Linked DNA regions of Homo sapiens. The protein of the gene in region 4 purifies or fractionates together with the protein of the main gene of each other region. This does not show direct contact. Each region holds a gene or a part of one and is shown on either strand. Other genes may lie near its edges. The genes, in order: SPR, CLIC4, ACO2 and GATD3.

Region 1 (7,177 bases), on a different chromosome or scaffold from region 4:
AGTGGCCGAGATCGTGCCACTGCACTCCAGCCTAGGCAACAGAGTGAGACTCCATCTCAACAAACAAACAAATAAACAAACAAAAACATCACTGGGATCACAACATTCCTCCGCTCAAAACCCCTCAACAGCTTCCCAGTAGCCTGGCCTAATACTCAAGGCATCCTAGTCTGCCCTCCTCTGGGCACACCTACTCTACAGGCAAACTGAAGACCTGCCACGCCCACAGTGAGCCTTCGCACCTTTATTTCCTTTCATCAGGAATGCCTTCCATCTGCCAACAACCAAGGTCAATGTCCAGTTCAGCTACCTCCAATAAAGCCATCTCTAGTCTCCCCACCTAAAGGAATTGTTCCCTTCTTGAACTGTTGCAAGCACGTTCTATTCTTCACATAGGAATCACTCATGCACCCCAATATTTGCAGTTAATGGTCCTCGAGGGCAGAACATCAGAGAATTCCAGGGTTGGAGGGAGAATTTATCTCCTGGTCCTTGACTATTTTCCAATGACCTGTGCATCCCTGCTGAGAGAGGACTTGCTGCCTTTCCAAACAGCCCATTCCATCTCTGAGCACCTGTTAGAACATTCTTCCTGAGACCGAAATGAAAACCAGACTGGCCTCTGCCTTGGTTCAGGCCCTGGGGACCTCCTGAAAATCTCAGCTCCCTCATAATGCCCAGGGCAGCCTCCTGAGACCAAACGCAGCCATGTGGACTTCTGGAGTCTGCTCTGCTCCTGGTTGTAGCTTACATTTGGTCACTGTTGTTTGTGCGAATCCTTGGGCTGAATTCAGAGTGGATGATGAGTTGAATGTTGGTTGTGAGAATAATTGTGCATGTGTGTTGGGGGGCAGGGGTGGTAGGGGCTGGGGTACTGGAGAACATGAGGAAGAACTTGAAAGCAAGGTGGGATCCAGCCCTGCCACATCTGTGCTTTGTGCAGGCCATTCTACCTGTCTGCCCTGGGAGCCTGACCCTATTCCCCAGGGACACAGGCTACTGGATTTCTGCCCAAGTTGCTCAGGCTTTCCATGGCTGCTCTGTCACCACCTTCTGATTGCAGCAACCTCAAGCCTAAAAGAGACTCCTCACTATTAAGACAGGGGCGCTGTGGCATCAGAAACTAGACCCAGTATCACAAGACTCCCTGTCCTTTGGCGTTCATGAGAGCAAGGGATCTATTCTATTTATCCCAGAATCCTCAATAGTGTTCCAGCACAGTTCAGCCAGGGATGGTCAGCACTCAACAAAGTCTGTCTGCTCTCCATACAGCTAGCATGTCCTGCAGCTTGCCTTAGTGTAGTGCTTTGCTAGGTGTTAGGAACACACATCTGCATAGTGCAAAGGCTTTCCTGTCAAGGGAGGGAAGGAGGCAAGCAAACATATGCAGACAATACAGTGTGGTCAGTCCTATTTAACAATGAGGCAACACTTCACAGGTCAGGGTCATTTTCACATACAGTATCTCATTCAGTCTTCCCAAGTGCCCTGTGAGGCAGGGAGCGTCTTCCCCATTTCACATGAGGAAGGCCTGGAACTCAAACCCCAGTCTTCTCCCAAACTCCATCTAATACCTCAGACCTTCCTGCCCCACCCTCCAGTCCAGGAAACTCCTCACTCTCTACCAGTATCCCCGGCCCCTGCCACCTCTATTTCCCCTGGGTCTGTATTTCCCCTAAGGGGTGATGGGTCAAGATTCAAGGACAAAATCCTGTGGGTTGTTTCCTGGAGGGGGCGGACTAGGCCGCTTGCCCAGCCCCCAGAGGCGCACCAGTGGGTTCTGGAGGACAGGGACGGCAGGACTTCCCACCTACCTGGGGCATAGTTCAGCACCCTCACATTAGGTTCCTCCAGCGCCAGGACCTGGAACAGCATATCACGAGCAGCCTTTCCTGCACAGTACAGCGCCCAGCCTTTGAAAGGTTGCAGGGCACAGAGGGACGAGATGTTAACCACGGTTCTGTTGAGGCCAGGACTGTCCGGGAAGGCCTTCAGGACGCTGGAAGTCAGGCAGAGCATGGAGGTCAAGTTCAGTGCCCAGTAGTTGTTCACTTGAGTGGAGTCACTCAGGTCCACGAAGCCTTTGGACACATCCCCAAGAGAGCCTGAAAAACCAACCCTTAGGAGTAACTCAGTGCAGGCGGGGCTTTCTTCTTCCCCAGCCCTCCCAAGTTCCTCCAGATATCCTCTTCCCATGCAGACCTAGAGGAGGAAGCTGCCTAGCGCTTCTGAAGAGGCTTCTCTCTTCCCCAGCTCTGCGGAAAGACACAGCTGGGGAACCTAGCCATCCCAAGCTGCAGAATGAGAAGGCACCTGCCTTGCCGTGGGGCTGAAGGAAAGCTCTAGCGGTCCTTTGGAGAAGCAGAGAGTTTACTTGTTTGGAGACTCCAAGCCCTGACTCAGGCCTCCGCCAGAGGGCGCAGAGCAAGGGGCTCGGGAAAGTTCTACAGGCGCTTTGGAAAACCCGGCTGGCCAATTTTCCAGGAAGTGGGGGCAGACTGTTGTCCCGACGGCACCGAGTCTTCCTGTACACCTCGCCTCCACTTGCTACTCAAGCTGGAACAACTAGGGCTTTAGATTTCTAGGCGTCCTATCTGACCCCTAGGAGTAGCCCTTAAATTCCCCAGCGGTGGAGGAAGTGGGCGCTCACATGGGGAGTCCGCTCCAGCCCCGGGGTCTTACCCGCGTTGTTGATAAGCAGCAGTCGCTGCAGCCCCTTGGGCCGGGGGAGCTCGCGCAGGGCGCCGAGCAGCTGCTGCAAGCCGGCCTCGGCGCCCAGGTCGGCGGGCACCCGCACCACGCGCAGGCCAGACCGCTCGGCGCCCAGCTCGGCCTCCAGCTGGCGCAGTGCCTCGTCGTTGCGGGCGCTAAGGACAAGCACGGAGCCGGGCGACAGCAGCGAGGCCAGGAGCGGGGCCAGCGTCCGGCCGAAGCCGCGGGAGGCCCCGGTCAGCAAGCACACAGCACGCCCCAGCCCGCCCTCCATGCTCCTGTTCTCCGCCGGCGGCGCTGGCACCCGAGACCAGGCAGGAGGCGGTGCGGCCGCGGGGGGCGGGACCGCTACGGGTGTCGGCGGGGCCGCCCTGCCGGGGCGGGGCGGGAACCTCAGGCTTCGGGCCGCGAGCGCCCAGGGGTGCTGGTTCCCTTGGGATCTGGTTCCCTTGGTTGCTGGTGGCGGAAGTCAAACCGTGGCGGTAGCCCAGTCCGTGCCAAGTGGGACAACAGAGAGGGCCGGCAGGCGCGGCCCACACGGAAAGCCCTAGCCCGGTTCCCAGCGCTGCCGTGTTCTTCGCCCGCAAGCTCAGCCTCCGGCTGGGACGCATGCTCGAATTTCCTCCCAGTTCCAGCCCTAACTTTGCACTACTGACCTCTTCCAGGGCAGGCCCTGCACTGGGTGCTGGGCGTCCCTGGTCGTGGCCAGTGAACACCCTGAATGAAGCTTATGCCTGTTTAGGAATTGAAGTCTCTGCTTGTTTGGGAGCTCACCGCTCTCTGGATGACAGGAGCTTCCTCTGGGAGAACCACAGTGGCTCCAAATGATATTAAAACCTTTCCCTTTTACTAGGCCCTGAGCAGCTCCGTGATCCCACCAGTAACCCCTGCTTCTCTGAGATTTCTGACTCCTGTCCCTAAAAGTGTGTTCCCCAGGATTCTGCTCCTGCTCATGCTACAGTCTCCCTGGCAGCAATTCCATCCACTTTCAGCTTCAAGTTTGCGCAATCATCTGTCTGTACCTCCAGGCAGGTGCTTCAGAAAAATCCACATTTTTTTTTTTCTAGGAGAGGAGGAACGTGAGACAAGTTGGCATGCAGCTACATATATTAAAAAGGAATCTCTTCATGGTTTCCTTCTTAGTGGCCGAGTGGTATTCCATTGTGTATATACATATGTCCAAATATTGTGTGTCAGTTTTTAAAAAACGAATCTCTTTAGAGTTTAGCAAGGGCAGTAAGTAACCTCTGATAACTTAGCCCAATTCCCCACAGGGCTGATCCCTCCCCTGGGGCTAAACAGCAAAGTTACCGCCTTTCCACTATTATTGCCAACTCTAAGGAAGAAACAACTTGGAGGAAGGCTTTTTTCTTTTCTTTTTTCTTTTTTTTGACAGAGTCTCGCTCTGTGGCCCAAACTGAAGTGCAGAGGTGTGATCACAGTTTACTGCAGCCTTGAATTCTTGGGCTCAAGCAATCCTTCCACCTCAGGCTCCTGAGTAGCTAGGATTACAGGTGCGCACCACCACGCCTGGCTAATTGTTTTTTAAGCTTTTGGTATTTTAACGCTGATAAGACTCTGTATATGTGTATACCATTTGAAGTTGCCCTGCTTTTCACTTACCTATTCACACTGAAGATAAAGATCTCATTGGCCCAACAGCTTACTATTTAAAGAATTTTAATAGCTTCTCCCTGCTCTCCAGGCCTTAGAAGACAGGTTGATGAAAGCACGATCCCATCCATCCATTCATTTGACATTTGTTAAATTTCTACCATTTGCCAGATTTTTGAAGAAAAGGAGGGAACAATGAAGGGATGGCAAAAAATCAGACCTAGACTCTTCTGAACCTAGCTGCTTCTAGGAGGAACCACTTGGGAACAGCCCCTAAGGAGAACGTGGTTTTCCTATACTAGGAGAGGGTCTGGAAAATTCTTCTTTTCTGAGGAAGATGATTATCTGCTCTCGCTAATTTTTGTGTTTTTTTATAGAGATGGCTCTTGCTGTGTTGCCCAGTGTGGTCTTGAACTGGACTCAAGCAGTTCTCCCATCTCAGCCTCCCAAAGTGCAGGGATTATAGGTGTGAGCCACCCCACCTGGCCAACAGTAACTCTTTTAAAAAGATACAAATGCCTGAAAGGTAAGAAATGTGTAAAAATTGTGTTAAAAACATAAGCCTGATAAAGGACATGGGTAGGGGAATGGGTGAAATTTGAATAAGGTCTGTAGGTTAGTTATTGGCATTGAATCATTTCCTGACTTTGACCAGTGAACTATTGTTATATCAGAGAGTGTTCTTGTTTTTGGAAGTACACAGAAGTATTTAGTAAAGGGGCATCATATCTGCAACTTACTTTCAAATGTTTCAGAAAAAAATTAGAATGAATAAGGCAAAGGTAAAATGTTAACATTTAGGAAATCTGCATTAAAAGTATTCAGGAATTCTTTATACTATTCTTGCAACTTTGTAAAAGTCTGAAATTATTTCTAAATAACAAAGTTTTTGAAATGAGTCATACTTTGGGAGGCTGAGGCAGGTGGATCACCTGAGGTCAGGAGTTCAAGACCAGCCTGGCCAACATGGTGAAAGCCTGTCTCTACTAAAAATATGAAAATTAGCTGAGCGTGGTGGCGTATACCTGTAGTCCCAGCTACTCAGGAGGCTCAGGCAGGAGAATTGCTTGAACCCAGGAGGCAGAAGTTGCAGTGAGCCAATATCTCACAACTGCACTCCAGCCTGCGTGACAGAGCAAGACTCCACCTCAAAAAAAAAAAAAAAAAAAAGCCATACTTATAAGTCAAAAGTAAAATGAAAAAGTGAGCAAAGTATATGAACAGACATTTATCCAAAGAAATTACACAAATGGTCAATAAGCACATAGAAAGATATTCAACATAATTTGCCATCAGGGAAATACAAATCAAAATTACGATAAGATACCACTTCATATCCATTAAGATGGCTAAAATAAAACAGACAGATAATAAATATTGGCAGGTTATATGATTTGGCTGTGTCCCCATCCAAATCTCATCTTGAATTATATTTCCCATGTGTTACAATTCCCATGTGTCATGGGAGAGACCCAGTGGAAGGTTAATTGAATCATGGGGGCGGGTCTTTCCCATACTCTTCTCATGATAGTGAATAAGTCTCATGAGATCTGATGGTTTTATAAGTGAGAGTTCCCCTACACAAGCTCTCTCTTGCCTGCTGCCATGTAAGATGCGCCTTTCACCCTTCACCTACCACTATGATTGTAAGGCCTCCCCAGACATTAATGGAACTGTGTTAATTAATGGAATGGAATTAACTGTGTTAATTAATGGAATCCACAGATTAATGGAACTGTGATTCCATTAATCCTCTTTTTCTTTATAAATTACCCAGCCCCAGGTATGTCTTTATCAGCAGTGGGCAAATGGACTAATACAGTAAATTGGTACTGAGAGTGGGGTACTGCTGTAATGATACCTTAAAATGTGGAAGTGACTTTGGAACCGGGTAACAGGCAGAGGTTGGAACAGTTTGGAGGGCTCAGAATATAAGAAATTGTGGGAAGGTTTGGAACTTCCTAGAGGCTTGTTGAATGGCTTTGACCAAAATGTTGATAGTGATATGGACAATAAGGTCCAGGCTGAGGTGGTCTCAGATGGAGATGAGAAACTTGTTGGGATTCACAGGATTCAAGTAGACATGTCTTTAGAGGTTGGGGAGGGGAGACACACAACTCAATCAACTAGGTGTGTGATAGAGAAGCAGGGCTTCCTCATTAAGAAATTTGCTAGACTATTGAGCCCCCAATCTTGGCTTTTCACCAAATTTGAAAAGCTTATTTTTGAGAGATACACACAAAGGAAGCACCAAACACATTTCAATGGATACATTTATGAAGACACTGTTTCTGTCATCCCAGTCATCACTTTAATGGCATGGAAGTTACTGGAGTGAGTAAAGCTTTTTGAAAAGCTTGGGAACAATAAGACTTCATGTAGCTCATGGGCTTTCTGGGCACATTTGAGTAAAGGGAAAAGGACTGGGAAGGATAAGCACACAGGGAACAAAGGTGTATTTGATAAAGGATGGCAATGAAGTGATCCTGGGCAGGGTTAGGAAAGCAGGCTTTCGTCCCTGCAGCGGCACTCCAACTTCAGGAGGTCCATGCTGGACAGCTCCCGTCTTTTACTAGTAGGTTGAAAGAAAGGAAAAGACAGCCAGGGTCCCTCTGCTTTCCTCTCTGCCAAGACTGAGCTTTTCATTACCCTCCCAAACTCATCTTTTCTTTATTGCTTCCTTTGCTCTGGGATTTCTCAATAATCTGTCACCTGGTGACAGCTGCTTTATGCGTATTTAGTTTCATTCATTCATTTATTTATGCATTCAATAACTATTTATTCTATTTATTGAGTGCCTACCAAGTACCAGGCTTTGAAGAGACCACATTCATGCTACTTATAGGTGCTG
Region 2 (7,721 bases), on a different chromosome or scaffold from region 4:
GTTGAATCACTGGGTAGCAGAAAACATTTCTTATTTCACAAATGAGACAAACAAGGCTTAAAGAGTGAAAACAAACTGCCTAGGGTCACCCAACCAAGGAGTAAAGAACTGTGACTTGAACCCTGATTCTCTGCCACCAAGCCCAATGAGAAAGGCTTACAACTAGTGGTAGGAAGGATGATTTTCAGTGGTTCTCAACACAAATATGAAAAACAGAAAGGGGATGCAAGTGACTCAAGTTTGGAAAACTGCACACGCCCCTCTGCTATTCTAACTGAAAGATGAAATTAATAGTAAGCAGGGCATTAATCACTGATCTCTTCCTAATTCAGATACTTAATTTTTCTTGTCTTCTTTGATTAGCTCCTCCAATAGAATAATAGAATACTGAATAGAGCCATAACTGATAATAGCTTTATCTTTTTTTTTTTTTTTTTGAGACGAAGTCTCACTCTGTCGCCCAGGCTGGAGTGCAGTGACTTGATCTTGGCTCACTCCAACCTTTGCCTCCCCGGTTCAAGCGATTCTCATGCCTCAGCCTCCCGAATAGCTGGGCCCACCACCATGCCTGGCTAATTTTTCTATTTTTAGTAGAGACAGGGTTTCACCATGTTGGCCAGGCTGGTCTCGAACTCCTGGCCTCAAGTGATCTCCCCATCTCGGCATCCCAAAATGCTACAGGTGTGAGTCACCTCACCCGGCCCGATAGTAGCTTATTCTAAGTTTAATACTGTTCTAAAGTTTCACCGTTAAGTATCATGTTTTACAGATTATTCATGGATGCACTTTTTTTGAGTTTATGGAAATTCCTTCCTATTCCTCACTCAGTAAAAATTTTTTTTAACTCATCTCTGGCCCACTTGTTTCCCTTCTCCATGCTGTTTTCCACCCACCACCCTTCCTTTCTTTCTTTTTTTTTTTTTTTTTTGAGATGGAGTCTTACTCTGTTGCCCAGGCTGGAGTACAGTGGCGCAATCTCCGCACACCACAACCTCTGCCTCCCGGGTTCAAGCAATTCTCCTGCCTCAGCCTCCCGAGTAGCTGGGACTACAGGCACGCGCCACCACGCCCAGCTAATTTTTGTATTTTTAGTAGAGATGGGGTTTCACCATGTTGGCCAGGATGGTCTCGATCTCCTGACCTCGTGATCTGCCCACCTCAGCCTCCCAAAGTGCTGGGATTACAGGCGTGAGCCACCGCGCCCGGCCTCCTTCCTTTCTTGTATTTCAGGTTCCTTCCTACATTCTACGCATCTCAAAGTACTATATCTGCCACTCAAAGTAACCGAAACGCTTTGATATTTTGGGGGTTCTATACCTGTCTGCTGTTTCAGTTCCCTGGACCAAAAAAAAAAAAAAAAAAAAAATCGAAAATTGACAATTGAAAGAAAATCCTAAGGCAAACACTGTTCCAGTCATTACTGAAGACTGCAGAGGTAAATGCAGATTATTTCTTCTCTCCATCTCTTTTGTTTGAGACAGGGTCTTGCTCTGTCGCCCAGGCTGGAATGCAGTGGTGCGACGTGGCTCACTGCAGCCTCGACCTCCCGGGCTCAAGCAGTTCTCCCACCGCAGCCTCCAGAGTAGTACAGGCGCGTAACATCGCTCCCAGCTAATTTTTGAATTTTTTTGTAGAGACAGGGTTTCGCCATCTTGTTCAGGCTGGACTCAAGTAATCCTCCCACCTCGGCCTCCGAAAGTGCTGCGATTACAGGCATGAGCCACCGCGCCCAGCCCTTCTCTATCTCTTAAACACATCCTGAAATGTCCTTTCTTTAAAGTAAAAACTCGGGGAAAAAAAAGAACCCAATAGTTCTAGATGACCATTTACTTTCCGGTATGTTGCCTAGCTCTGAATGAGCCTGGCTTTTTAAGTGGCTGGAAGAAGCTCAAAGTGTTTTTTTTAAGTTTTGAGGGAAGGAGCTGGATCCAGATGTTTATAACTTCGACTCTCTCCTTTGCTAAAATAAAAAGTATTAAAGAGAAAAGCAAAGGAAGAGGGGTAGTATGTGTAAGCAAATAAATTCCACACATGAAAGCTGAAGACACAAGGGAAAACCAACCCTTTAAAGCCCAAGCAAGTTAAGAATTCTCTCCCTCAATTTCTTTCAAAACAAAAGGGCACACACAATCCTTCCCGAAGCAGCAACGCCGGGGGGAGAAGCCAAAATGTTGCATCATACAGAACACTCCGCGCTTGAGAAACGAGAAAGCCAGTAAATGCCCAAGACAGAAAAACACAAGTTGGGAATCTCGGTCTTTTCCGAAGGTCCAAGAGCACCTGCTCTTTGGTAAATTTGTTTAAGATTGCATCGAAAATTAAAGTTTCCGTTTCAGACCAGTGGGGAGCAAATGCTTTTTCAAAAACGCGTTCAAAGAAGTTCGTTTGAAAGCTCATCGGGCGGCGGGCCGCAGTTCGGGCTCCGGGCGGCGGACCGGAGCGCTGGGGAGCGGGTGGGGCCGGGCCCCGGCGCCCGGGCGGGGGGTGGTGACAGGACCCGCGCGCGCCCGGCGCTGGGGCCCCGGGGCAGGCAAGTCCCGCCCGTGGGCTCTTCCCGACCCACCCGGGCGCGGGACGCTGGTCTGGCGTCCGCCGATGCCTACGCGCTGGAGACGGTGGCCGCCGCCCGGGTCCCCAACCCGGACCCCTCGACGGGCCCTCGGAGGCGGGAAGGCGCGGGCGGCCCCCAGACAATGGGCCGGGGGCGCGGGTGCCCGCAGCGGGACGGGTGCTGGCGCCGAGCGGGGGCGCCTCAGGAGAGCCCCGGGACGCCGCTCCCCGCAGCCGGGAGGGAGCCGGGGGATCTGCCGGGCGGGACCGCGAGGCGAGCGCTCACCTTGACGAAGAGCTCGATGAGGGGCTCTTTGTCCTCCTCCTTCAGCCCATTCAGCGGCATCGACAACGCCATGGCCGGCTCGGCTGCGCTCCGCGAACGGCGAGGGCTGCTGCTGCTGCTGCTGCTTCTGCTCCGGGACTGCTCCGGCTGCCGGTTCCCGCCGTGCTGCTCGCTGGACTGTCCGGCGTCGAGCTGGCCACGGCTTCAGCTCCTCAGCACCGCCCCACGCCCCCCGCGCCACTCTGAGCCAGCCGCAGCCCGAGCCGCTTCAAACGGCTGGGAGGGGCGCCGGGGGCGGGGCCTCGGGCTGTAGGCAGGGCCAAGGCGCGGCGCCTCGGGACTCTCCGGGGAAAATAAGGCGGCAGGAGCACGGGGGCGTGGCCTCGAGCGGGGAAGGCGGAGGGACCGCTCCGGAGCCGAAGAAAGGACCTCTGCGGCGCCCCACAGCTGGTAGGGGGCGTGGCCTTGGTGGGCGGTACAAAGCTCAGGCTCTGGCGGGCGGGACCCGGGTACGCCTCTCTAGGGGACTGGTGCGGGGGGGAAAGGAGGGGAGGAATTCCCCAGGGGCCCGAGCCTGACACTGCCTCCCGCCGCAGCGCCTGCGCGTCCTCCGCAGCTGCTGCTGTTGCTGTGCCAGGTGACCTCATGCCTCGGCCGCCCTGGGGAAGCTAGGAGGCGCCTCCTACCCACTCCCCCGCTGCAGCACCCCAGGACTCATCGCCCTTTCCCGCAGCGGCTACCTCCCCAAGTCCCTCTATTACGCGGAGTTGCCTTTTCCAAGACAACTTACTGGAAAGTTTTCATCGCCTGGGGAACACCTTTTTCTTCTGCCTCTGACTTCGTTTTTCCCTTTGACGCTCCTGATCGTTTCGATCTTGGCAGCCAGCATATTCACAAATATATATATATATATATATATTTTTTTTTTTTTTTTTTTTGAGACGGAGTCTGGCTCTATCGCCTAGGCTGGAGTGCAGTGGCGCGATCTCGGCTCACTGCAAACTCTGCCCCGGGTTCACGCCATTCTCCTGCCTCAGCCTCCCAAGTAGCTGGGACTACAGGCACCCGCCACCGCGCCCGGCTAATTTTTGTATTTTTAGTAGAGACGGGGTTTCACCGTGTTAGTCAGGATGGTCTCGATCTCCTGACCTCGTGATCCGCCCGCCTCGGCCTCCCAAAGTGCTGGGATTACAGGCGTGAGCCACCGCGCCGGGCGCATATTCACAAATATTTATGAAACCTTACTGTGTTTCAGGCTCTGAGCTAGCCCTTGGAGAGTAACAACTCCCAAAGCTCAAGATCTTGAACTGCAATCTCAGTGCCTGCAGGCCACTAAGGACTTCCAAGTCGTTGTCCATCTTGTTCCCCACTGCCCACACCCATTTCTTCCCCCCGGCTCACCTGTCAAATTTGAGTGTGCATCAGAATCACCTAGGTGCTACACGCAGCCCCGCTTTTTGTGTTTCCCAGATCCTCTGGGAAAAAGAGAAATCCACATCTTAGCAAGCACCAGGACAATTCTGAAGTAGGTGGTCCGCAAACCAGTTAAACTGCCCTGGGATTTAAGCCCCCGAGGGCAAGAGCTGTGCTTGCCTTGAGATTGTAGGCACCTGGTCCTAGTTTGCTGCTGTTGAGTGCCTGGGGCAAGTTTCACCTCCTCTGGAAACAATTACTTGTGCCCTTTTCTGACTTTCCATAATACTTGACTCACAGCTACTCCTCCCAACTTCCCAGGTTGGGATAAATAGTGAGTTCCAGGAGGCCCAGACATGGGAGGTTTGTCTCCATATCCTCGGTGCCTAGCACATACCAGAATGTTTGAACAAATTGTACGTAGGCATGAAAATACAGTGAAACTTGCAATTTCTTCCTCTGCCAGCCCAAAGTAAGTTGCTCAAATTTTCTCACAGAGGCTCTGTGAAAGAGCCAGTGTATCCCAGTGGTCAGGAACACGTGCTCTGTAGTCTGACTGTTTAAGTTCAAATCTGACAAGGCAGTGTCCTTAAAACCCCTAAGCCTCAGTTTCATTATCTAGAAGTGGGTGGGGCTAATTACTGATTCTTGCCTTACCATATGTGCTGCTCCGTCAGTATGGCTGTTAACTGCATTGAGACTTATTCTGTCCCTACCACCCCTGCAGGCTAGAATGTGGCATCATATTCTACTCTCTCTATGCCCGGCTAGTTCGTTGAAAATAAATAAATAAATTCCAGGAGGCTCCCCTTAGATGGGGGCTTGAACCATGAAAATCCTGAAGTGACTGACTAGACTCTGGACTGAACCGTGTTAATTTTTCATAGAATCATGAACTGAAGCAAAGTTTCCTTCCAGAATCCACCCTCTCTGCCCTACCAAAAAGGAACCAAATGGTGAATCAGTTCAAAGCAGATCTAAGCCAAAAAACAATTCAGCAGAAACTCAATGTACCTGAGAATTGATCAAATTGAGGCCGGGCACAGTGGCTCATGCCTGTAATCCCAACACGTTGGGAGACCGAGGCGAGTGGATCACCTGAGGTCAGGAGTTCGAGACCAGCCTGGCCAGCATGGCGAAACCCCATCTTTACTAAAAATACAAAAATTAGCCGGGTGTGGTGGCACATGCCTGTAATCCTAGCTACTCGGGAGGCTGAGGCAGGAGAATCGCTTGAACCGGGGAGGCAAAGGTGGCTGTGAGCCGAGATCACGCCACTGTACTCCAGCCTGGGCGACAGAGCGAAATCCATCTCAAAAAAAAAGAATTTGAGTTAGAGGCAGCAAATATTCCCGGTGGTGACTTGCCCTTCACAGGCTCCAACTGGCCTCACAGCACCAGGGTATGGAAGGAGGAACAGACCAGGGCCCTTTAGGCTTCATTGACTAAACAGAGATCTTAGCTAGGAGGAAGCCAGGGGCATTCTCCACAGAGCCCTGAGGTGGTGATGATCTCCTGGGCTCCTCCTACCCAACAGGAAGCCCCCCAGGAAGAGGCTCAGACCCAGAGCCTGTGCTTAGACGTAGTCTCAGTCACACCTACAGTTTCCCAAGTTCCGCCCTCATATGGCTCCCATGGATGGGCAGTCAGTCCTGGGAGTGGGTGAAAGGGAAAGAGGATGTTTATGCAGGGGAGGCCCCCTAACCACATAGCAGTCAAGTCTCCTCTTCGAATTTTGAATTGCATGCCTGCTTTACATTCTTTACTCAGGCTTGTTTTTATAGCACACAGAAATCTTTAAGATGGGTGGAGACATGTTGTCTCCTCCCACACACACCCCTCTGACCTCATCTCCTACCATTCTCCCCTGTGCTCTCCACCCCAGCTTCACTGGCCTCCTTTCTAGTCCTTGGATATGCGAAGCACACTGTGGCCTCAGGGCCTTTGCATTTGCTCTTCCCCCTCTCTGGAACATTCTTCCCCCAGAATTTCTGCAACTCCCACTCCCTTACTTCCTTTGGCTCTTTGCTCAAATGTCATCTTCTCAGAGCGCTCTCCCCAAATACCACCCTATGCAACGTTGCAAGTTGCTATCTTTCACTCCACCCTCCACTTTATCTCTCTTCATAACACTTACAACCCTCTGATACATATCTACCTATTTATCTGCTTATTGTCTGTCTTCTCCCACTAGAACATAAATGCCATAAGGGCAGGGATTTTTTGTTTGGTTTTGTTTATGGCTATATTCCTGGCTCAGAGGACAGCTCATGGTACACAATAAAAATTTATGGAGTGGGCCGGGCGCAGTGGCTCACGCCTATAATCCCAGGATTTTGGGAGGCCAAGGCGGATGGATCACCTGAGGTCGGGAGTTCGAGACCAGCCTGACCAACATGGAGAAACCCCGTCTCCACTAAAAATACAAAAAATTAGCCAGGCATGGTGGTGCATGCCTGCAATCCCAGCTACTTGGGAGGCTGAGGCAGGAGAATCGCTTGAACCTGGGAGGCAGAGGTTGCAGTAAGCCGAGATTGCGCCATTGCACTCCAGCCTGGACAACAAGAGCGAAACTCTGTCTCAAAAAAAAAAAAAAATAGCTTATGGAGTGAGTGACTGTACCATGTTTATCCTATGGTTTCATGTACCCCTGACATGACATTTGGATTGTCACGCTCTTCCAGTCTGGGAAGCCAGGTGGTTTGTGTTTATGACTGCCCCTACACAGGGGGTCAGGTTTTCCTCCAGTAAGCCTCCCTTGATGACACTTTCCTCCTCCCACTTCTAACTCTGTGGTGCTGCTCGCTGACTGTCTCAGCCCAAAGTTCTGCAATTTCAGCAGCAGAATGAGCTGCTATGCACATGGACTCTGGGGCCAGACTGCCTGGGTTCCAATCCTGCTTCTGTTATTTACTAACTCAGGATACTTACTTAACCTCTCTGTGCTTCATTTTCTCATCAGTAAAAATGGATCTAAATTAGTACCATTTTCTCGTCTGTAAACATGGATCTAAAATTAGTACCTATTAATATTTAATAGGATCATTGATAAATTAGTCTATGTTAAGAGCTTGGATTGTAAGTGCTCTGTAGACACTAGCTGTTGGTATTATTCCCATCTGTCCATATTCTTGACCGGTCACTGAGCTCTCACACTGCATGCCAGACACCTAGCTGGGTGCTTTCATATCCAATCATATTTATTCATCATGGTCTTGCAAGGCTTGATTTATTTATTTATTTATTTATATTTATTTTTATTTTTTTTGAGACGGAGTCTCACTCTGTCGCCCAGGTTGAAGTGTAGTGGCACAATCTCATCTCACTGCAACCTCCACCTCCCAGGTTCAAGTGATTCTCATGTCCCAGCCTCTCAAGTAGCTGGGATTACAGGCATGTGCCACCACACCTGGCTAATTTTTGTACTTTTAGTAGAGACGGGGTTTTGCCATGTTGGCCAGACTGGTCTCAA
Region 3 (7,021 bases), on a different chromosome or scaffold from region 4:
CTCTACAATAAACATATTTTTCTTTTCTGCCAAGAAAAAGTAATTTTTCTTTTCTTTCTTTTTTTTTTTTTTTTTTTTTTTTGGAGGCAGGCTCTGTTGCTTGAGTCTGCAGTTTTGAGTCTGCCTTTGTTGCCCAGGCTGGAATGCAGTGGTACCATCTCGGCTCACTGTAGCCTTGACCTCCAGGACTCAAGTGATCCTCCCACCTTAGCCTCCTGAGTAGCTAGGACTATAGGCATGCGCCTCCACACCTGGCCAATTTTTTTTTTTTTTTCTGAGACGGAGCCTCGCTCTGTCACCCAGGCTGGAGTGCAGTGACACAATCTCGGTTCATTGCAACCTCCGCCTCCTGGGTTCAAGCGATTCTCCTGCCTCAGCCTCCCAAGTAGCTGGGGCTACAGGTGCCTGCCACCACCCCTGGCTAATTTTTTGTATTTTTAGTAGAGATGGGGTTTCACCGTGTTAGCCAGGATGGTCTCGATCTCCTGACCTCATGATCCACCCATCTCGGCCTCCCAAAGTGCTGGGATTACAGGTGTGAGCCACTGCCCCTGGCCAATTTTTGCATTTTCTTTTAAGAGACGGGGTTTTTCCATGTTGCCCAGGCTGGTCTTGAACCCCTAGACTCAAGTAATCCACCTGCATTGGCCTCCTGAAATGCTGGGATTTCAAGCATGAGCCACCACTTCTGGCCGAAAAAGTAATTTTTCAATAATAAACCCATTTCAGAAACTGCCCACCTTAGAAAGTGCCACACAGTAGGCATAGGTGATTGTCTACAGCCCTGGGCAGAGCCACTGGCCCTGAGACCTGCTAAACAGATGGGGTGGAAGGTGCTCACCCACTCGGATGTCCAGAGGCCATCCTTCCTTCTCTGCCACCTTGCCCACTTCTGCCACAGGGTGAGCCAGGTCAGGGGTGAAGGGCCCATTGATGTGTGGCTTCAGCTGAAGAAACAAACATGCAAGGAGAAGAAAGAGAGGAGGGAAGAAACCTTGAAGCGGGGACAGCCTCTTTCACTGCCTCACCACGTCCCCACAGAGAGGCCAACGACTTTCTCTTGACTGAAACCTCATCACAGGGAAGAACTGAGCAGTTGGCTCTGCACACACCCGCTCCCGGGCTCCCTCCAGCCCTGCAAGGCTGGGCTCAGCTCTGCAGATGAAGGAACTGAAGCTCAGAAGTGACATGCTGTGCTTGAAGTCACATAGCTAGGAGACAGCAGAGGCATGGAATGGATCAAGGCTGTCAGCTTCCTAAGTTCATTATCTCCCATTCGATGTTGCTTTTGGAATCTTTTTTTTTTTTTTGAGATGGAGTCTCGCTCTGCTGCCCAGGCTGGAGTGCAGTGGCACGATCTTGGCTCACGGCAGCCTCCGCCTCTCGGGTTCACACCATTCTTCTGCCTCAGCCTCCCGAGTAGCTGGGACTACAGGCGCCCGCCACCACGTCTGGCTAATTTTTTTGTATTTTTTTAGTAGAGACGGGGTTTCATCACATTAGCCAGGATGGTCTCAATCTCCTGACCTCATGATCTGCCCGCCTCGGCCTCCCAAAGTGCTGGGATTACAGGTGTCAGCCACCATGCCCGGCCGCTTTTGGAATCATGACAAAAATGGACTTAAGGCCAGACGCTTTACATATCATAATCATCAGTAAATGCGAGGCACTCAGCTATGTGCGCAGCATGCAGTAAACCTCCGTCAGTGTTAGTTACATGAATTCATTCAATCCTCACGACTGCTGTAGGTTCCACACGTGATGGAGCAAGGGGCCTACAGAGGCTAAGTGCGTGACCAAGGCCACACAACTTAAGTGGCAGAGCCGAGGTGTGAACTCCTGCAGACGGGATCCTCTAGCCTGCCCTTCCTCTGGCTCTGCAAACACCTGCTCTGATCTGTGCGTCTCAGGGTGCCTAACCCTGCTGGGATTTGCCCTCTGAACTCAGATAACAAAAACCCTTCAGGGTGAAACCTTGGCTTCTCCTAAAGCTGAGCTGGTGGCAAACTGACATCCACTTCTGGTTCAGCAGCCAGAGCTACCTCTGCTCTCCCCGTGGCTGTGTCTCCCCCCTCCCCACCCACTGCTCCAGGCTGCTTCAGGAAGCAGTTTGCAGGAACACTGGGGACCCAGGGGCCCACGAGTCACCCTGAGGTTTTTCTTGTTTTGTTTTTGAGACAGTGTCGCTCTGTCGCCCAGGCTGGAGTGCAGTGGTGCGATCTCGGCTGACTGCAACCTCTGCGTCCCGGGTTCAAGCGATTATCTTGCCTCAGCCTCCTGAATAGCTGGGATTATAGGCACATGGCACTATGCCGAGCTAATTTTTGTATTTTTTTTTTTTTTTTTAGTAGAGACGGGGTTTCACTATGTTGGACAGGCTGGTCTTGAACTGCTGACCTCAACTGACCCACCTGCCTTGGCCTCCCAAAGTGCTGGGATTACAGCTGTGAGCCACCACCCGGCCCTCAGTGAGTATTTAGGCAGGACCCGCCCTGCTCCCCACTACTCTCAGAAACTTCTTGAACCCAGTTAATTGTCTCCTCACCTCACTGAGGTTAATTTCAATTAGTTGGTCATAATGGCAGCCAGGGTCAGGCACCAAGTGATCCTTGAATTCATCAGCTAGATTGGCAATGTCTGAAATCAACAAGGGACGGGGATGGAGCACGTGAAACATAAACTGTTCTTGAGAGTTCACTCACCACCCACCTGAGCACCTGCCAAACACCAGGCCCACCCTGGGCACTGACTAGGCCAATGAAGAAACCAAGGCTGCTGTCTCTGCCCTTACAGAGCTCACACCCTAGTGCAGGAGCTGTCAGGGACACGGAGACACAGAGGAGGAGCGCCAGCTAAGGTTCAGAGCCGGGGAGGGTGTCCTGGAAGTGAAGAGCTGGGTTTTGAAGAAGCAGTCACTCAATAAGGAAAGGGAGGAGCCTTCCAAGGATTCCACGTGCTTACGGCTCTCCCCATGGCCCCTGGTCTCTGGCTCCTCGTTCACTCCCACAACGCACCACCCTTCACAGGTGCCAATGCCCTCTGAGCTCCAAAGAAGCCAGGCTAGAGCCTCAGGGAAGTTGTCAGGGGAGGCTGGGAAAGTGGTTCTCCTTCCAAATGTTCCCCTGCTAGGTCAGGAATTATCAACAGAAGCGATCCATGTCATTTCCGGAGTTTCCTGTAGGGGGCAGCAGGGACCAGGCCGAGAAGGGCGGGCATTCAGCCACCTTCCAGGGAAAATGAAATGCCCATCCTGAGGTGGGGCTATCTTGAACTCAGATGCCAGGCCCTTTGAGAAGCTGGAGAGAGCTCCAGACAATCTACTCAGAAACATATTGCACCTCTTCAGGGCTTTCTCAGAGCCTCGGACGCCTGTCTGGAGACAATGGGTTAAGAACCCCTGCCCTACAGGGAAAGGCATAGCTCTGTCTTGGGGAGGAGCGGGCATGTGACTGTTCCACCCACACGGGCCTGCCCCTGCCAGCTCACCTTCCCGGCCGGTCTTGCTCAGGTACTTCTTCATCCTGTGGTTGTAAGGGAACACGGAAGTGGTGGCCCCAATTTCTGCACCCATGTTGCAGATTGTCGCCATGCCTGTGGAGCAACAGAGCCCCGGGCATTGGCTGGTGGCCGGGCCAGGGTCCCACACACCTGCTACGCGGCCACCTGCATCTTCACACCAGGGAGCTGCATTGCTTCTCCTCCCACTCAGAGAGATGTGGTGACAGCGGGCCGACTCATCCCTTGAGGCCCTGGGTAAAAACCTGGGCCGGTGAGGGGAGGCCATGGGGATCAGAGCTCAGGGCCCCAGCTCAGGGTGGCTGCTGGGTAGAATGAAGAGGACTCAGGTGAAGATTCAGCCCCCACACACTGAGCTGCGAGCTTGGGGCCTGACTGTCGCCCAAGAGATTGAACAGGCACCACGTACTGTAGGCTGACCTGACCAGACACTGCCCAGTTGCTATTCTTTTTGGCAGGGGAGGAACTGGCTCAGAGAGATTCAAGGTCATGCCATAAAGCACATAAAGGTAGATGCTGACATTCGGATCTTGGTCTGTCTGCCTGGTGGCCTGCCCTCCTTCAGCCATACCATGGTGGAGACACTTTTCTGTGTCTCAAGTTTTCCAGTGATGGAGGCCGAGGTGGGTGGATCACCTGAGGTCAGGAGTTTGAGACCAGCCTGGCCAACATGGTGAAAACCCATCTCTACTAAAAAAAAATACAAAAAAAATTAGCCAGGCATCATGGTGCACACCTGTAATCCCAGCTACTCAGGAGGCTGAGACCGGAGAATTGCTTGAACCCAGGAGGCGGAGGTTGTAGTGAGCCGAGATTGCACCACTGCATTCCAGCCTGGGCGACAGAGTTAGACTCTGTCTCAAAAAACAAGAACAAAAACAAAAACTGAAATGATACACACTGTCTGGACCACAAAGCGTCACAGAACTGGTGGGGCTCACAGGTACTGCAGCTGCTACCAGGCCACCTGCCTCAGGAGCCACTAGGACGGAGGTATGGGCCTGTTACCAACGTCCTGACTGAGCAGTCCCGTGGCAGGAGTGAGCCCCCATCACTGCAGGGGAACCAGAGTTCTGCAGGGCTGCCAGGGAGCCCAGGCAGGCACCTGGGAAGTCTAGACTGTTACAAATCTCCCTGGATTTCTGAGGACCAGGCATCCAGGCCAGGTCACCAGGAGTGACAGGCAGGGAGCAGCTGGCTCCTACCTGGTCTTGGAGGCGGACAGGCACCGATCTCTAATCCAAGGGAAGTGAGTGAGGCTCGAACTTCAGCGAAGGGAGGATGTGGGCCTGCAGCTGCTTCATGAATGAAGCCCTGGCTCTGCCCATTCCCACCACTGCCTCTGTCCTCTCTGGATTCGTCTAGATCACCCAAGGTGGCCTAGTGCTATGGCCTGGGCCCAGCAGCAGAAGCTGACTTGGCTCCTAACCGTGTGTGGCCACACAGTTAGGAAGTCACCGGCAGCCTCGACAGGTATCTCAATCTCTTCATCTGTTTAATGAGGATGTGGACTAGACAATCTCTAATGCTGTCTCCAATTTTCCTTCTACCTCTGTCTATCCCAAGTCCCCAAATGGAACAGACAGATTCTCAAGTGAAGGCCATTCACCGCTTCTACTCCCAACTGGAGACCCATCAGGCCCAGCACAGGGTAGGGGCCACGTCGCCTGGCCGCCTTCCTCACCAGTGCAGGAGATGGAGTCTACACCAGGCCCGTGGTATTCCACGATTGCACCTGTGCCACCTTTCACCGTGAGGATGCCTGCCACCTTCAGGATCACATCTTTGGGTGAGGACCAACCGGAGAGAGAGCCCGTCAGCTTCACGCCAATCACCTGGACAGGAGGGGGCGAGGCGGCTGTGAGAGGCCGTGTGTGCCTGTGCCAGCCACGAAGTCAGGATGGCCCTGCTGCCATTCACATTGCTGCTTATTGGTCTCTACCTCCCTCCCAGAAGATTCGAGTCTAACTTGTTCCCTTTTCCCTCCTGGGTCCCACCGTCTCCCGTTCATCCCCACCAACCACCACCCCACAGCCAGCCCAGAATGAGTCCCTCCCCACCCTCACCTTGGGGCACTTCAGCTCCCAGGGGATCCCAGCCATGACATCCACAGCATCGGCACCCCCAACTCCAATGCAGATGCCCCCAAGGCCGCCACCATTGGGGGTGTGGGAGTCAGTGCCAATCAGAAGAACACCAGGGTACGCATAGTTTTCCAGAATAATCTGAAAAATAATCCAAGATGTTATATTTAGAAGCCCTCAGCCGAGAATACCAAAAAATGGCCCCACTGACCCGGGGCCTCCCAACCACGTCCAGCCACTCTCCCAGGATGGAACTGGTAGGAGCAGCCCCATTTAATCCAGGCCGTCTCCAGGGTGGCCAAGAAGAGCCAGAGCCTTGGGAGACAGGTGGCCTGGGCTCTTGAATAGCTCTGATATTTCCTGCTATATGTCTTGGGCCTTTGAATGCTGCCCCATGCCTCAGTTTCCTCATTTGTAGCACAGTAACCAAACACCCATACCACCATGACCCCAGGATGTGACAAGAACCAGAGAAACTGTCCTGTGATGGGCCCAGGCCCGGCCTCATCCTGGGTGTGGAGCATCCCCACCTGGCTTCTCATCGGGGTTGGTGGTTCTTCCAGGAGCTGGCTCCAGCCCCACAAGGCCCCTGAGGAAGAAGTCCTGGGAGGCCCCAGTGGGTACACAAAGCTATGAACTTTTCCTCAACTGCAAAGAATAGGTGATGCCTCGTCCACTTCAGCATCTGGAGGTGGCTCTGAGAACCCATGTGACTTGCTCAAGGCGCGATGCCACCCTGCCTCATCACCTGTCCCATTTCACAGTACTCCCTTCACTGAGGCGCTCCTCCCAGCCGTGGGGAGCACTTCCCCCAAAACATTTGGTAAGAAAGGCAGCAACACCTCAACACCCAAGTGCTCAACACCTTGGGTGCTGTATAGGCTCAACACCCAAGTGTGGCCCAGGCACCAGGCACCTCTGAGGCACTGGCCCCCTGAAGCTGCAGGACACTGCTTGGCAAGCCCTGAGCCAGGCGTCCTGTATCGGGGGGTCTGAGGTCTGGCCCCACCATCTACTAGTTGTTGTGGGACCATGGACAAGTCACTTCTCTCGGAGCTCAGTTTCCCTATCAAGAAATAGCTAACAATCGTGCTCACATCATTGGTTCACTGATGACTGGATGAGATCCTGTCCATGAGGCACAGAATAGTGCCTGCGGGAAGCAACATTTTTATTTATTGTTTTGCAGCAAGAGCCTTCACCTGAGGTTCTGCCGCTCATCAGTCAGATGGAGTTAGTGCCCCACCCGGGGATGTGGGGAAGAACACATGAGAGGTGTGACAGGCTCTGTGAACTCTCAGGACCCACCAGTGCTCCCAGAAATCTTACAGAAACCCCAGGGCCTCTGCCTCAGGACAAGCATCTGCCTAGCAGACTCTAAGGTCCAAAGGTCTCATCTCTTGGGGATGCAGAGGGAAGAC
Region 4 (7,016 bases):
GGTGAGAAGCACAGCCCCAGGAGGCAGCTATGGCTTCTTCCTCGAATCTCCAGCTCCGACCTCTCGTGGTCCGAGGCCAGTTGGAAGGCACCTTGGAATGGCCTGCACAGGGCTGTCAGGCAGGACAGGCAAGGGAAGGGGATCTCAGGCCACACAGGCCAGAACCACACACACCGCAGTAACAGACATGCTGCTGGGAACCAGCAAAACAGATCTGGAGCCCAGACAGGGGAAGAAGGTGGGCGACCAAGCTGAGAACCACCACCTTTGCTTAAGACCAAGGTATGAGCAGCCTGACTCAGTGGGAAGCGATCCGGTCGCCATTTTCAGTCCTTCTGTGAGTACTGGAAGGAAGGCACTCCTGAGCCTTGGCAGCATTACTTCTGGAACAGCCCGAGCACAGCTGCTCAGAAGGACGTTCATTTGCACACAAGACTTGGTTTAAGCTAAGCCAGCAAAAAAAGGCTGCACCGTGGGAGGTAGACAAGAAGCAAGTTCCAATCCCACCCCCACACCTGCTCTCGCCTTCGGACGGCTGCCCCTTGGTGTGGTCAATCACGTGCATCTGAGGGACGTCAGGAGCAAAGATCTGGACTTCAGCCCCTCCACGGCTCAGGTGCACCAGGATCCTGCACGGGGGAAAACCAGAGACAACTCTTCAAAACGTGCCCCACTCAGATTTGTGTTAACACATTTTTAAAAACAGGATTTTAGCTAAGTACCAGGAGCAAATTCCTAATGTATATTAATATCTTACTTGCTCTGCAAAAAGTTACAGTTGGTTCCATACCAAGCCAAACGTCCCCCACACCCCCATTCCAATTCACTGTCGGTTGGTGGGTTACGACTATGACAAACCCTCAGAAGTGGGCTATGGAGATCAGCTGGTCCCAACAGCTCCCTTTGCAAACTGGGGTATGGGGGCCGGGTGACTCCACTGAGGGCACAGCCTGGAGGCGTGCGGGTCCCCGGCTGCTGAGTGCTCTACCTACACCCAGGGCCTGGCTGCCCTCCTCCAGTTGCTTGCTGCAAGCACCAAGAGTGAGAAGCAGCAGTGTGCTCAGAGTGCCACGTGCACAGACGGTGTGACGGGGCTTTCGGTCACTACTTAGTTCAATTTCTAGTCTCCCTCAACTTTCCCATCACAGATGGTGGGAGAGACACAAGAGACCCCAGGACAACACCACAGGCCAGGCAGCTCCATCTCCCCAAGGGCAAGGGCAACAGAAGCTCCTCCTGGGGACAACAGCTGACATTATGGGGGCTCACGCTGGCATCCGCAACTCCCAGTGCCAACAGGAGATAGGTGGCTAAGCCCACCCACACACTAAGCCCTCACTGCCCCTTACGTGGAGGAGGAAACCGAGGCATGAAGTGCAGTGACTTGCCAGAGGGAGAGGTCAGCACCTGGCCCTGGCACTTGGGTTCCGCTACCCATAAGAAATCCACCCAGACACCCCAGACACAAGACCCTGCCGTTCTGCCTGGGAGGGCTCAAGCTATTCTGGGGCTATTTTCTATCCCACCAAGGCCAAATCATGAAACACATCCTGGCCCTTTCCCCCAGCTCACTCTGCCTAGTGCCAACTCCAACCAGCCAAGGTGGGCCACCCACAAAGCCACCAGCCTCAGGCCACTCTCCATGGCCTGACACCCCTTTCGCCACCACCCAGCTCTCCCCTCTCCAGTTCACCCTGAACCACATGGGAACTACAGGTACCTGGCACGCGTGGTGGCCTCCTGCCCTACTGGTTCGGCCTGCAGTCATTTCCAGTAGCACAGGAAATCAGGCCACCAAGCACTCAGCAACAGCTGACCAGTTACGTAAACAGTAACCTGTCTAGGACCCAGAAATACCACGCAACTGTTAAAATGATGTTGAGAACTGAATGAATGGGAATTACTTCCCATGCGTCAGAAACATTTGCAAAACACGGGTGAGTGTGATCTCAGTGTTTTCAAAATGTGTGTGTCCTGAAAAACACTCAAGTGAAATGCTAAGTCATTTCTAGGCTCTAGGTGACAGCATAAGCGACACTTAAAAACTGTTCTTTCTTAGCGTCTCCCTGGGTTTTGCAAGTCGTTTTTGCTTTTTTTTAGCCAAGAATAGGGTATTTAAAATACAAGCTCTCTCGGCCGGGTGCAGTGGCTCATGCCTGTAATCCCAGCACTTTGGGAGGCCAAAGCGGGAGGATCACTTGAGGTCAGGAGTTTGAGACCAGCCTGGCCAACATGGTGAAACTCCGTATCTACCAAAAATACACAAATTAGTTGGGTGTGGTGGTGCATGCTTGTAGTCCCAGCTACTCGGAAGGCTGAGGCAGGAGAATCGCTTGAACCCAGGAGGCGGAGGCCGCAGTGAGCCAAGATCGCGCCATTGCACTCCAGACTGGGCGCTGTCTCAAAAGACAAAAAGTAAAAATAAAATAAAATACATGCTTTCTCTAAGCTGTTCAAAAAAGAGTAAACTTCACTGGTGGAGAGGCCTTCTCGAGGCCCCCGGGGTGGAGGACCAGCTGCCCCTGAGGACTTACGCCGAGGCCTCGTGGATCTCGGTCCCATCGTAGACTCCGCATCCAGACAGCACCTGCGAGAGGAGCGGGAGCTGACCCGGGGGAAAGGGGCCGACCTGGGCGGCGGGAGTTGACTGGGGGGAAAGGGGCCGACCTGGGCCGCGGGCGCTGACCCGGGAAAATGGGGCCGACCTGGGCCGCAGGAGCTGACTTGGGGTGAAGGAGCCGACGTGGGGCGGCGGGAGCGGACCTAGGAAGAGGGGCCGACCTTGGGCAGAGAACAGCGAAGGCTGATCTCTGGAGGCGGGAGCTGACCTCACCCCCTCCGTCCACTCACCAGCGCGACCCTGGCCGCGGGGCGCGGCACGGAGAGGTGAAGGGCTGCGCGCTGGGAAGGCGTCCGACCGCCGGGGGACAGGGACGTGAATGCAGATGCCGCAGCGAGCCTCGAGGCCACCAGGACCCTCACAGCCGCCATTGCGGTGAGGACAGCGGGGTCGGAAGGTCACGCAGGGACAGAGCGTGCGCACCCACCCCTCTACAAACGCGTTGCTCGTCGGGACTGCGCCTGCGCAGCCTTCTGGGCGGAGCCAAGACCCGCCCCCGTCTCAGCCCTATCCAGTGAGTTCGCCGGTGGGCGGGGGCCGCGCCTGCGCAGAGCCTCCGAATAGAGTTCCGGGAACCCTGTCTTCCTTCCGGTGGTGGCTGAGGGCTCGTGCTCGAGGCTGAGGGATGCTGGTGACTCCCGGGGTCCCCAGCCCCGCCCCCATCGGACGCCTCCACAGGCGGCGCACCCTTTCCGCCATCCGCAGAGCAAGGCTGCCTCGGGGCGGCTCAGTCCGGCGCTTCTTACCTTACCTCCGTCTCATCCTTAACTCACCACGAGCGTCCAGGGTCCACATCCTCCTAAATGGCCACTCGTCTTAATCTCGGCGTCAGGACCCACGCGGGGTCAGGACTACCCCTCCGCTTCCATGACTGTCTCCTCGCGGCTCCGGCTCCCACGGAGCGACCCCTCCGGGTTTTACTGACCCCGGGATGTTGTATCCTGGAAACTGCAGTTCCACCCAGGGGCTTGATCTGGGTTAGTCTGGGGGCAAGTGAGCCGCCGATTCTGTTTGGGTTTTTTTTTTTTTTTTTTTGAGACGGAGTTTCCCTCTTGTTGCCCGGGCTGGAGTGCAATGGCGCGAAGTCGGCTCAACGCAACCTCCGCCTCCCAGGTTCAAGCGACTCTTCTGCCTCAGCCTCCCAAGTAGCTGGGACTACAGGCATGCGCCACCACGCCAGGCTAATTTTGTATTTTTAGTAGAGACGGGGTTTCTCCATGTTGGTCTGGCTGGTCTTGAACTCCCGAGCTCAGGTGATCTGCCCGCCTCGGACTCCCAAAGTGCTGGGATTACAGGCGTGAGCCACCATTCCCGGGCGCTGTTTGGGTTTGTTTTTTTGTTTTTGTTTTTTACGTTCACAGCATGGACGGTCAGTGTGAAGATCCCAGCTGCTCGGGTCCTAGCTGGAATTCTTCCATTAAAAAAATCTGTTTGTTATGCATGGGTTAGTTCACAGAGGAATAGCTGGATAAGTGCTGGCTTTTTCCCCGATTTACCCATTTTCAACCTAATAATGCAGGTTTTTGAAATAATGTGAATGGTTACTGCTGGCGGATGTTCACAGGGACACACCGGATTCTACAGACACATCTGATGATCTAGCCACGGCTGTCACTTTCCCCACTGCCGCGTTGTCCATCACTAGGACTTTACTGCCAATCCTTGCAAGATAGTGGGGAACTAGAATAACAGACATGGGACATTACCAGTTACAACCAAAGACAAGCTTGGCACATTTGACTGTCCTCGTTCCTGCTCCTCCGTGCCTGGCCCTCTTCAGGCTTCTCAGCTCCTGGGGAGCGGCCAGCCAGGGAGCATCAGCTGGTGGGAGCGATGGGGTTGTGGGATGGCACAAAAAAACACCAAGCGCCACTCAGAAAGGAAATGCCGAATGCAGACTCTCACTCAGTCGGTGTGGGGGCCAGGACCCTGTCTCTACCAAGTGTGCGGGAGCTGCCCCTGGCCGGGAGCTCCCAGACCCCACTGCAGAGCCGCAGCTCCAGTTGTCCCAGGGGCGACTACTCAGGTGTCCATCGCCATGCACATGTGACACAGAAAAGGGTGAGGCGAGGAGGGGGAACGCTGGAAATTGTTTCACGGAAAAGGGCGAGGCAAGGGAGGGGAACACTGGAACTTGTGCTTTGGGTAGGCGATAGCTAAGGATTCTCTCTCGTCTGGGTCACGGAGATTGTGCAGCCACAGAACACCTGGTGTCATCAGGGCCTGAGCTCCTCCCTTCTACAAAGACCTCTGGTCTGCAGGCCTGCAGGTACAGTGCTGTGGGCCACAAGGCACTGCCTGTCGTATTCATCTCCACTCTCTAGCACATCTGGCCTCACGCCACCCCCGGGAGGCCGGCAGGCAGATATCAGCTCCACTTCCCAGATAAGCAAGGGAGCCAGGTACTACCCAGGGTCTTGGGGGCCACACCGCTGGCGAGGGACAGGCTGGGCCTGGCAGACAGCACTGGCAGTCGGTGAAGTGCCCACCTCAGTGTCAGCCTCAGGTCCTGACCCTGGAGGCTGCTGTTACTGAGCTGTGGGGACCAGGATGCCCTACCATGATGGAGACCCAAGCCTCTCTCATGATGACTATTCCCAAGGGCACTGCAGAGGGGAGGAGCTGTCTCCTCCTCCGTGTGGCCCACGCAGAGCTGGTGCAGGTCTGAGTGAGCTCACCAAGACAGGCCAATCCCAGCCCCAGACTCCAAAGCATCCCCAAGAGGTCAGGGAGAGGCTCTGTGCCCCTGACCCCAAGGATATGCACAGGTCACAAGGCAGAGCCCCCGCTAGACAGCAGGAGCACCCTGCTCTGTCAGCCTGCTTCCCCAGGACGGAGGCCCTGGTGGTAAGGCAGGCAGGTCTTGAGCCCCCACAAGACAGCAGGATACAACATAACCCTTTTTAATCTGAAGTGTAGACTTCATCCTCACGTTAGAAAACTCCATCTTTTTTTTAATCCCTAAGTTCTTTATCAAACCTTTATGTTAAAGATATAAATAAGTCTCATACAAAGTTCATGTGAATACCTCTCTGAGACGCATTTTCAACATTCATCACCGTTCACACGGCCCCGCTCCTGGGGCCAGGTGCCAGTGCGTGCCGGCCCCTGGCGTGACCCGTCGGCTCGCTGTCCTGATGGGCTACATGTGTGCACAGGAAAAGCAAGTCACTACCACTAGTGACAGTATTTCAGCTGTTCTCTGGACCCCTCCTCTTTGCTGGCCCAGGTGGCACAAGGGTCCCATCTCCCTGGCAGGTCTTAGCCGGCACAATCCAACGCTGCAACCGGCTGGCTCTAGGCCAGCATCTCTTCTTCTGAGTCTCTGCCTCCTCCTCCAAGCAGATGCAGGCTGTCATCTTCAGATGCTTCTGCCTCCTCCTCACTTCCCAGCGGGTCTAGGGAGCGTTTTGTGCCCCGCTGCTTGGAAACTGCTAGTGCGTACTGCATGTTATAGTGGTTCCAGCTACAGCTGTCAATCACACAGGGATGGTCAATGCCAGCAACGCCCAGGCCCTGGCCTGTCCTGCACCCAACCACCTCCTCTGTGACCCCTGAGAAAAGCAGCAGGGGCTGGACATGCCGGTTCCTCCACCCCAGCAGCCATTTTTTTCCTCTTTTCCCTGCCCCAACAATCTGGTTCTGCCCCATCCAGCCCTGGGGCAGCAAAGGCCTTCAAGGACCCAAGGACCCAACTGTAACATCCCATCCCTTTGGGGTCATCCTGGCAGCTCAGCCCTTCCGCTGGGCCCAATCTAGATGGCTTCACCAGCAAGTTCCACCAAACACTTAGGAAGAGACCGCTGCAGAGCTATGTGGTGTTGTGGAGCGAGAGGGGAGGAAGGCACGCTCTGAATCAGTTAATTTTCTGAGTTAATGGAATAAAGGAGAAAAGTGATGCCACCATCACTTTACATAGGAAAGGAGAACTGAAAGATAAATGGATGAGAAAGGAAGGAAGCGCCCCATCGCATCTGCAGGGCACAGGACCCTCTGTGCAGGACTCTTCCTGACAGCCAATGGCAACCCTACAGATTGGCAGTGAACGCCTAGACAGGAGGTCCAAGGAACAATGCACTTACGTGAACTCTAAAAACATCCCATAAGAGGGAATAAATCTAAAGGAGCTGGGCCGGGTATGGTGGCTCATACCTATAATCCCAGCACTTTGTTTGAGAGGCAGAGGCAGGCAGATCACCTGAGGTCAGGAGTTTCAGACCAGCCTGGCCAACAAGGTGAAACCCTGTCTCTACTAAAAATACAAAAATTAGCTGGGGGTGGTGGCGTGTGCCTGTAACCACAGCTACTTGGGAGGCTGAGGCAGGAGAATTGCTTGAACCTGGGAGGCAGAGGTTGCAATGTGCCGAGATCACGCCACTGCACTCCAGCCTAAGCA

The links.
Region 1: the proteins of GATD3 (region 4) and SPR fractionate together in Homo sapiens (co-fractionation; 2 studies listed by BioGRID). This does not show direct contact.
Region 2: the proteins of GATD3 (region 4) and CLIC4 purify together in Homo sapiens (co-immunoprecipitation; 2 studies listed by BioGRID and IntAct, with this or other methods). This does not show direct contact.
Region 3: the proteins of GATD3 (region 4) and ACO2 fractionate together in Homo sapiens (co-fractionation; 2 studies listed by BioGRID). This does not show direct contact.

Annotation. Positions count from the first base shown.
Region 1 is NC_000002.12:72,883,242-72,890,418, reverse strand, and holds the start of SPR (sepiapterin reductase), read right to left. Parts: upstream 3,012-7,177; 5' UTR 2,987-3,011; coding exon 2,683-2,986; intron 2,106-2,682; coding exon 1,815-2,105; intron 1-1,814. UniProt on the Homo sapiens protein: Catalyzes the final one or two reductions in tetra-hydrobiopterin biosynthesis to form 5,6,7,8-tetrahydrobiopterin.
Region 2 is NC_000001.11:24,740,741-24,748,461, reverse strand, and holds the start of CLIC4 (chloride intracellular channel protein 4), read right to left. Parts: upstream 3,016-7,721; 5' UTR 2,909-3,015; coding exon 2,837-2,908; intron 1-2,836. UniProt on the Homo sapiens protein: In the soluble state, catalyzes glutaredoxin-like thiol disulfide exchange reactions with reduced glutathione as electron donor. Can insert into membranes and form voltage-dependent multi-ion conductive channels.
Region 3 is NC_000022.11:41,514,097-41,521,117, reverse strand, and holds part of ACO2 (aconitate hydratase, mitochondrial precursor), read right to left. Parts: intron 5,742-7,021; coding exon 5,583-5,741; intron 5,352-5,582; coding exon 5,201-5,351; intron 3,592-5,200; coding exon 3,487-3,591; intron 2,638-3,486; coding exon 2,546-2,637; intron 948-2,545; coding exon 842-947; intron 1-841. UniProt on the Homo sapiens protein: Catalyzes the isomerization of citrate to isocitrate via cis-aconitate.
Region 4 is NC_000021.9:44,129,673-44,136,688, reverse strand, and holds the start of GATD3 (glutamine amidotransferase-like class 1 domain-containing protein 3, mitochondrial isoform 1 precursor), read right to left. Parts: upstream 3,007-7,016; 5' UTR 2,992-3,006; coding exon 2,851-2,991; intron 2,588-2,850; coding exon 2,535-2,587; intron 1,780-2,534; exon of another isoform or gene 1,721-1,779; intron 630-1,720; coding exon 516-629; intron 1-515. Other genes in the region: PWP2 (periodic tryptophan protein 2 homolog), read right to left, coding at 5,918-6,092.